Regions from separate parts of the Homo sapiens genome. Here region 1 is linked to region 2. The links come from fine-mapping of genetic effects on gene expression. Tissue or cell type: sun-exposed skin. Region 2 holds a variant in brackets; the other region holds the start of a gene. All regions are shown on one strand. Distances are from middle to middle.

Region 1 (4,242 bases), 530 kb before region 2:
AGGAGACACACATTAAACAAATAATTACATATAGCAAGTATTTAATTTCAATTGTGAAAAGCATTACCATGGAAAAGTGGAGGGTTCCATTGAAGTGTGTAACCAGCGGGACAGAATCCAGTCTGGAGAACCAGAAAGTCTCCTCTGAGGGAATAACAACTGAAGGATGAGTAGGAAATAGCTACAACAGTGGTTCTCAAATGCCCAGTCCACGTATTACCTATGCTATGCTAATGTTGCTGGAGATAAATGGATCAGAAGATGGAGGTAAATTCATTTTTAGTCTTTAGATTTTTCCATCCATATTTGCTTTCTGTGTTATGGTGCCATCAAAAAATCCACTCATTCACTCCTTAAAAGACAGTTATGTTACAGGAGATATTTAGATTTATGAAAATCATGATACATGTGAAAGGTAGTCCAACTGGATGGGTGAACAAAATAATAATGGCATAAGACTGCAAGATAGCGTCAATAAAAACTCCAGGTATATTTGTTAAAAAGGTGTATATGTTTACATAAAATTAAAGATATTTACTGAAGACAATTTATAGAGCATTCCGTATCTTTCAAACAAGGAAATATGCACCTGGAATATTTCTATCTTTCCTTGACAGAAAGCTCATGTTCTAGATGTTTCAATTAAAAACTGGGCACCTGGCAAACACTTAAATCAGGGTACCTACCTTGGGCTCTTCAATCTGGAGTGTAATTACAAATTCGATTTTTGGTGGCAGCGCCTCCCTTGTGCCTTCCAAATACCTCTTTATATTCGTCAGGGCATTTACATCTTCAAGTTTTACTTCTCCTTGGTTAGGAAACATAGAAAACAGCATTTCCATCTCCAGTAGCTGAAGCTGAAGGCTTTCTTTCACCGAAGCAGACATGTTGCCTCGCAATCAGCCTGCCTGGAAACCTCACAAGGCTCAGGGACGCTGGGTTTGTCAATGCCAGCCGGTATCCAGCGAAATTTCCCGAAGGTCCCTTTACGTGGAAGCAATTCTGCAGGAACGCTTTGCACCGAGAGCTAGGGGCACAAACCAGACACTTGCACTCTTCTTTATTTCCTGACTCCAAAATCTAGTATGCACAACATCCTCTAAAACACTCCGTAAAAACCCATATTCTGCGTACCCGGGCTCCGGGTTCCCGCCTCCCGCACCCCGCACTAGATAGGGGAATCTGCACTTTCAACAGGTGTTTGGAACTGTCCCGCTGCAGGTGGCAGGCAGACACCTGCAGACGCTCTGCAAGCCTGAATTCTGGGAAAGGCTGGGGCCCGGCTTCCAATCCCACCCGGGGCTCGGGCTTGGGCGGAGCCAGACGCTGCGGCGAGAGAGGCCGCAGTGCCAGCAGGATGGGCTCCGAGTTCCCCAGCGCCAGTCGCCACCCCTCGGTCCTGGACTCGCGGACCGCCCCCCCCCAACACCGCGGTGGCCTTTTCGCTTGGGCCGCATTCCAGGGCTCCGGACGTTTACGATTCACTGGCCTCTGCCCCGAGGGACCCAGGATAAGGGTAGGGGGTGTCTCAGAGGTCATTAAATAAAAGATGTTTACAGTGAGCTGGGGGAAGGGGGTACCCGGGGAGACGGCAGCCGGAGAAGGCTTCCCAGATTCAAAGGTTTGGGAGATGACCTCGACGTCGGAGAGGGGGATGCGGGCCGCCGGCGGCGCTCACTGTGGGCGAGGTCGCCCTGTCCGAGGCCCAGCGACGGGGCTGATTCCCCACCCCCGCCCCTAGCCAAGACCACTAGGAACCCCGGCTTCCCAGGAACGCAGGGCCTGCCGCCCCCAGAGGCCCGGATTTGGAGGCGGAGGCTGTGCCTCCGCGGCCGCAGTGCTCTGAGGGCCCGCGACCCTCGGCCCCAACCCCCGGGCCACCGCGGGGGCCTCACCCTTTCTGGTCACTCAATGGTAACAGCCCCAGACCCCGCTCGGAACCGCAGCCGCAGTTCCTCAGGCGCCAGCTGCGCGCGACCTGCGGCGAGGCGGGGGCGGGGCTGGCGGATAGTCCTCTGCCGTGATTGGCCAGGGGGCGTGGCGACGAGCCGGAAGCCACGCAGGGCCACGTCTGCGGTTCTGAGGACTGGGTTTGGGTGCAGACGTTGTTGCTTGGGCGCTTCTCCGCTGCGTGTAGGTGAAGGGGGCTTCCTGACCGAGGTAAGCCGGGCCCCGAGGCTCGGAGTTGAGAAGGGAGACTACCGGTCGGCAAGGGCTCGGTGGGAGCGGGACAGGTCAGATTCTCGGCCCGACGGAGGGGCTAGTGGTCTGGCGGGCGACTGACCGAGCGGCGGAGCGCGCGGGACACACCTACAGGCCCCTGCGCCCCGCGGGCGGGCTGGTCGGGACGGGCCGCGGGTCTCCTGCCGGGGCTCTGGTACGTGGACCTAGGCGGGGACCTCAGGGTGGAGTGCCGGGAATCACCCTTGTGCGGTGATTCGAGGGTAGGCGGGAGAGAGGCACCAAGGAGATTTGAAGATTGAATGGAGAGTAGGGGGATACTCTTAACTTTTTGCGTGGACGCTGGATTTGGCAAATATGCTTTCAATAAAGGCATTCGCAGAGGCATTGAAAGTAGTTGTAGGGCCTAAAACGCATGAAAGGATGAACTCATATTATCTGGACCTTTTTTTTTTTAATGGCTTTTTGGAGTTAACAGGACTGGTTTACACTCTTATGAATAATCATGACACATAACTGACTGCTCAGTTTTTACAAATATGTATTCATCCTTAGGAAAGAGATCTGATCACTGTCTTGAACTAAATTAGTTTACTGAATGCCAGCTTTTTCCAACTGGACAAAAGCAAGTATTTTTCACCATTTCTTGCAAGTTCTGTTCATTGAAGCAATGAAGGACAATAAAGAAAACAAAATTATGAGGCTAGCAGCTGGCGGACTGCTCCTCATCTCTGGGCTAATTGGGAATTAATTGACCCAGGAAATGTAGTATATGGACTACTGAAGGAAAACTACTGACTGAGGTTGGAAACCCCAAGTTCCACTTAATGGGAGTATCCCAGAGAAAACAGTATTAGTGGGCTAAGGGCCGATTTTTTGTTGTTGTTTGTTTTGAGACGGAGTCTCACCCTGTCGCCCAGCCTGGAGTGCAGTGGCGCGATCTCGGCTCACTGCGACCTCCACCCGCGGGTTCAAGCGATTCTCCTGCGTCAGCCTCCTGAGTAGCTGGGACTACAGGCGCGCACCACCACGCCAGGCTACTTTTTGTATTTTTAGTAGAGACAAGGGTCTCACCATGTTGGTCAGGCTGGTCTTGAATTCCTGACCTCGTGATCCGCCCGCCTTGGCCTCCCAAAATGCCGGGATTACAGGCCTGAGCCACCTCACCTGGCCTGTTTTTTTTTTTTTTTTTTTTTTTTGAGACCGAGTCTCCCTTTGTCACCCAGGCTGGAGTGCAGTGGCGCGATCTCGGCTCACTGCAACCTCTGCCTCCCGAGTAGCTGGGATTACAGGCGCCAGCTAACACGCCCGACTAATTTTTTTGTATTTTTAATAGAGAGGCGGTTTCGCCATGTTGGCCAGGCTGGTTTCAAACTCCTGACCTCAGGTGATCCGCCTGCCTTGGCCTCTCAAAGTGCTAAGATTACTGGCGTGAGCCACCGCTCCCGGCCGATGTTTTATTTTTAAAAGTAAAGGAAAAAGGTGGCATTCTTTCAGAAGAAGATATTGCTAGTTTTAGAGCAACATCTTAGAAGGGTGTCCTGATTGTTTTTAGCAAATGGAAAAAGATCTGGGTAGTCTTGGAGAAGAAACTGTTGCCTTTTGCTTTTCCTTTAAGAATATGTCTCTGTAGTTTGGGAGAAATAGCAAAAGAACCACAAAGATTTCTCAGATATTTGGGGATATGTAGTTTCAGTCCACTCAAGAATCTGACTTTAGGCCTCAATCCGTCACCAGCTATCTATGTTAATTTAGGTTAGTTTCCCTTTTTGTAAAATGAAATGATCTTTGAGCTCATTGGAGTCTCTGAATAGGTGTAAAATCTTCATTTTAGTTGAGAGTGGACCAATTTAAGTGTGCCCGGCGTCCAGGATAGTCCTGGAGCTAAAATGGGAGGAGAGTGGGGACAATCTGCTATCTGCCCTGAGTCTGCCCAGGAGTGGACATACCAAGTTGGACAACATCTTGTAGGTAATTCTAACCCACAGGACTTACTCTCCTGCCCATTGCTCTGTCAAACATAGGGTTCTTTGAGGAGGTTCAGGATGAGACAGACCTATT
Region 2 (4,242 bases):
TATCTCTTTTATCTGCTGCTTTTCACCACATTCTGAATTTCACCCTCTCATGTATTTGTGTTTTTGTTCCTCTCTAGCCCTGTTCTTAATATTCATCGTTGTCGTCATCATGATGATTATCTATCTGATATTCATATAAGAGAACAGCATGTTTGCATGTTCTAGTATTTTAGAAGTTTAATTAAAAACCAGGGACTTTTAAGCTCAGTTTGATCTGTTCTTTTAATCTTTTGGTCTTTGGCAATAAAATCCTCAAAATAAAAGCATTCTAGCTATTTTTAATTCATAGATTTTTACTTATTTGAATTGTAGATTTAAGATTTTTATCAAGTGTTTGTTACGTTTCTTTAAACTTTGAGATTTCCAAAGCTTCTCTGCAGACTAAAATAGAATCCACCTGCTTCCCTCTACCACTATCATGCATTATAAAGGGTGCTTTTATCCCCCTCTTAGATGGACACCTTTGAAAAATTCTAGTGAAAAAGTAGGATGTAAAATATGGTGATTTCCTTCACAGGCAGTCTTTATGGGACTGTATCTATTTTGTAAGGTAGAAAAAATTAGTTTTACAATCAGGGCCACCCCTCTCAGTGAAAAGGGGTTCAATCCAGCCTATGATCTAGCCCTGGTCCAGCATGGAGAAAGGAAAACTCCTTTTTCTACAGGGTCCATCCAAAGAGGTGACTTTTTCCTAATTCCTACAAACCACATGGCACATGCTAGAAGCAGCCATAGTAAGATACATTGAAGCAATTAAAAAATTTTTCTACAAAAGATAAAAATTGCCCCTCATTTATCTTTTTATACAAATCCAACAATGAAGTCATTGCCAAGTACGGCAACCATAACCCAAAGTCTCTTATGTTCCTGGGAGCATCAGAAATGTTTCCATTCTCCCAAATACACACATATGTATACACACACATAAACACATATATGGAGTGAATTCATTTTCAGTATGGCTGTTGCCCTATATTTAATGATATGCCAGAAGGTTGAAGGTACTAACATTTCTGCTATACATTCATATTGGGAAGAAATTAATTATATAAAATGTTATGTTGCTTTAAATATTCTTTGACTTTAGAAAATGATTTTTCTATAAAAAACTGCTAATGTTAGAATCATAACTAAATTTGTTTATCTGGAATCCAGAGTTATAGTCTTTTCAGTGTTAACTTGCATAATCTATTCTGTTTTGATGAGGAAGAGACAATGGCCAGTAAACAAGTTGACGACAGAGAATTCTAGAAATCAACTTTCAGACTGCCATAAACTAGATGACTATATTGATTCATCATGAAATTTATCTTCCAAACCTGAGCACTTTCGAGAGTGAAAGAGAGAACTATGCTTGGACTGTAGTGTTAACTGGGACGTTCCAGGTAAAGTGAAATATATGAAGACCCTGGTTATAAATCACAGAAAAATCTTAGTTAATAATTTAACATAGACTGTAAGATATAGTATTTCACTCTTTAAAAATGTCTTAAGCATGCACTAAATGTTTTATGGTGTGCTAGTTCTTTGTTAGTGTGTACAAACATGAATCTAATACACAGGTCTCAGCTTACAAATAGGAGATAAAAGATAGGCATGTGCAGCATGGTTTGGCTCTTTAAGATGCTGCTTCTGGCCCGGTAAGATGTATCAAGGCAGCCAGAAAAACTTATAATTCT[C/A]AGAACCAAGCGTTCAATGCTCTTTTGTCACTTCCTGGTTTTGCTCCCACCTTCCTCTTCCTCACTTCGTGATCTTATCCTCCCCAACCCAGGCTTAACAGGACCTGACCACTCTTTGCCTCTCTCCTCCAACGATTCTGGAAAAATGGCAGCTTACAACATGTTTTATGGATTTCTTTTTAGCCTTTTATAGCATGAGTTAATTTTATTTGCATATGTACACTGATTTGTTAGTGTGTGGGAGATTGTTTATTAGTCAATTTTCTCTTCGATGACTTATTTAAGATTTTCAGACCACAGCTGCAACTCATTTTGTGTTTTATTATGTATTATAATTTTATTTTAAAATTGTACCATGCATGTAGAATTCTCTCCTGTCTTAACTTATTTTTATGTCATCTCTCCTTGGCAAAAGTCATGATTCTTTTATTATAATCTGTCCAATAGAGAAGGAAAACAATAATAAACCAATTAAAAAGGAGGCAAGCTTTAAATTTCTCACTGACATAGTAATACTAGACCTACTGAATCTGTTCCTCGAATCTGTTACTGTGAGACTCCTACAATATTAGATATTCATTATTTATTTCTTAGCATACAGCATTTGGAAGACAATGATTGTAACTAAAGGAAAGAGAGCTAATTGCAGAAAGTCCAATATGAGATCCAGTGATGACTGGTTCTATATTGCCCCAAGAGAAGCAGCTATTTAGCCATTATCTCTTCGATCTGATCATTACAGACAGTCAAACTAGAAAATTAAAGCCTCAAATAAAGAGCTCTCAGAGAATCTCTGGAAGGATCATTTATAAACTTGATTCAATTCTAAGAGTTTGTAATTTCAAAAGTGAGAGTAGAAGTCATATTTAGGAAAATATGAAGCCTTCAACTTTAAAGATAATCAATTCTTCCCTGTTTATTGTATGCCTAGCAATGTAGAGTGCTGGAGTTTTAGCAGCAAATAAAATAGTTCACTTCCCTGCCTTTAAGGCTTTTCACTGTAGCAAAGAAGACATTGCACATGCATGTTTCCGAGGACACATACATGGATGCATAAGAGCTATGAAGATGAATCATAGGCTGATAGACATTCGAATTTGGAGGGAGCATTTTGACTATGCAATGCCAGTACCAAGTGAAATTGTTTCTAAGAGGTGAGAGTGTTTCAGCAGGTGGAGTTAATGTGGCTGGGAAGGCAGAGGTCATGGGCAAAGGAATGAGGGAAGGGCTTGGTAGACTATAGAAAATAGTATGGTGTCCCTCAGAAAATTAAAAATAGAGTTACTATATGATTTGGCAATTCTACTTTTTGGTATATACCCAAAAGAACTGAAAGGAGAGTTTCTAAGAAATATTTGTATTCCCATGTTCACAGCAGCATTATTCACAATAGCCCAACGGTGGAAGCAACCCAACTGTCCATTGATAGATAAATGGATAAACAAAATGTGGTGTATACACACAGTGAAATATTTTTTCAGCCTTAAAAAGGAAGGAAACCCTAACACATGCTACAACTTGGAGGAACCTTGAGGACATTAAGCTAAGCAAAATAAGCCAGTCAGAAAAAGGCAAATATTGTGTTTTTCATTGATATGAGGTACCTATAGAATGGTCAAATGCATAGAGACAGAACATAGAATGGTGGTTGACAGGCTGGAGTGAGGACAAAATGTGGGGTTGTTTAAAGGGTCTAGAGTTTCACAACATGAAAATAGTTTTGGAGATTGGTTGCACATACTTAACAATATTGAACTGTACACTTCTAGTGGTTAAGATGATAAATTTTATGTTATGCATATTTTATCACAATTTTAAAAGAGAGAGAGAAAGAGATATGCTAGAGTGTGTCCATAGATCTTGAGCAGTGGAGACAAAAAAAAGGGATCAAAGTTAGCTTTAAGATTTTAAGCTTATATGACTGACTGAGAGAAAAATGGCAACATTAGTGAGGGAGAAATTGGGTGGAGAAGGTTGGTGTGGGTGGTTGGGGTAGAAAGGTTTGGTGGAGATGATGACTTGGATTTTAAAATGTTCACCTGGAGGATGTGGTGGGACATCTTGTTGGTGGTAATTTGAGAAGAAGAGCTAAAAATATGTCATTTATCCTTTTCTTAGGTTAATAAAACTTACCTATCATGTATTTGGTAAGGTTATTTATCATGATGTAAAAATGACTTTTTGAGTAATTATCCTTTTCAGGTAAAATTGTCAAAGGTTTATGGTTATGTTGCTTCAGAGTGATTTTAATGACAGAAATTCCAGGAAAAATAGCAGGGCATATGTGCTTGAACAAAGTCTTTTTATATTCCTTAGATGATACTTGATGAACAGGGAGTGACATCAGTATCCAACTTTATAACTTGAGTCAAAATTACTCAGCCCAACTATGATGGGTTTTCCCTCTCCTATAGTCTTAGATGATCTTCTGACTTTTGCCGTCCACCTGCTGTGAGGGGAAAAACAACATAATTGGTTTAAGCTCCTTGGATATTTCTCAATGAAATGGGGGTCATAATATTATATAAACTATAAAAATATACTATTATTGTGATTATTTCTA

What was found. PIP is the estimated chance that this variant, and not a neighbour inherited with it, causes the effect.
Region 1: it holds the start of RWDD2A, and the variant in region 2 is the best candidate, but not a certain one, in a credible set for the expression of RWDD2A in sun-exposed skin (GTEx, PIP 0.52).

Annotation. Positions count from the first base shown.
Region 1 is chr6:83,191,097-83,195,338 of GRCh38, reverse strand. It overlaps RWDD2A (RWD domain containing 2A), which reads right to left and starts at 1,982. Exons shown (of 3, transcript NM_033411.5): 1 at 1,896-1,982; 2 at 687-1,027. The coding sequence starts at 887. PGM3 (phosphoglucomutase 3) reads left to right here and starts at 2,074. Exons shown (of 13, transcript NM_015599.3): 1 at 2,074-2,160. RefSeq lists silencers at 1,684-2,053, 2,354-2,423 and an enhancer at 1,612-2,111.
Region 2 is chr6:82,656,443-82,660,684 of GRCh38, reverse strand. The region is part of intron 5 of LOC105377876 (a long non-coding RNA gene); the gene reads left to right. Among named protein-coding and RNA genes, the nearest start is that of TPBG, 290 kb to the right of the region's middle. The variant C/A (reference allele first, on the strand shown) is at 1,680.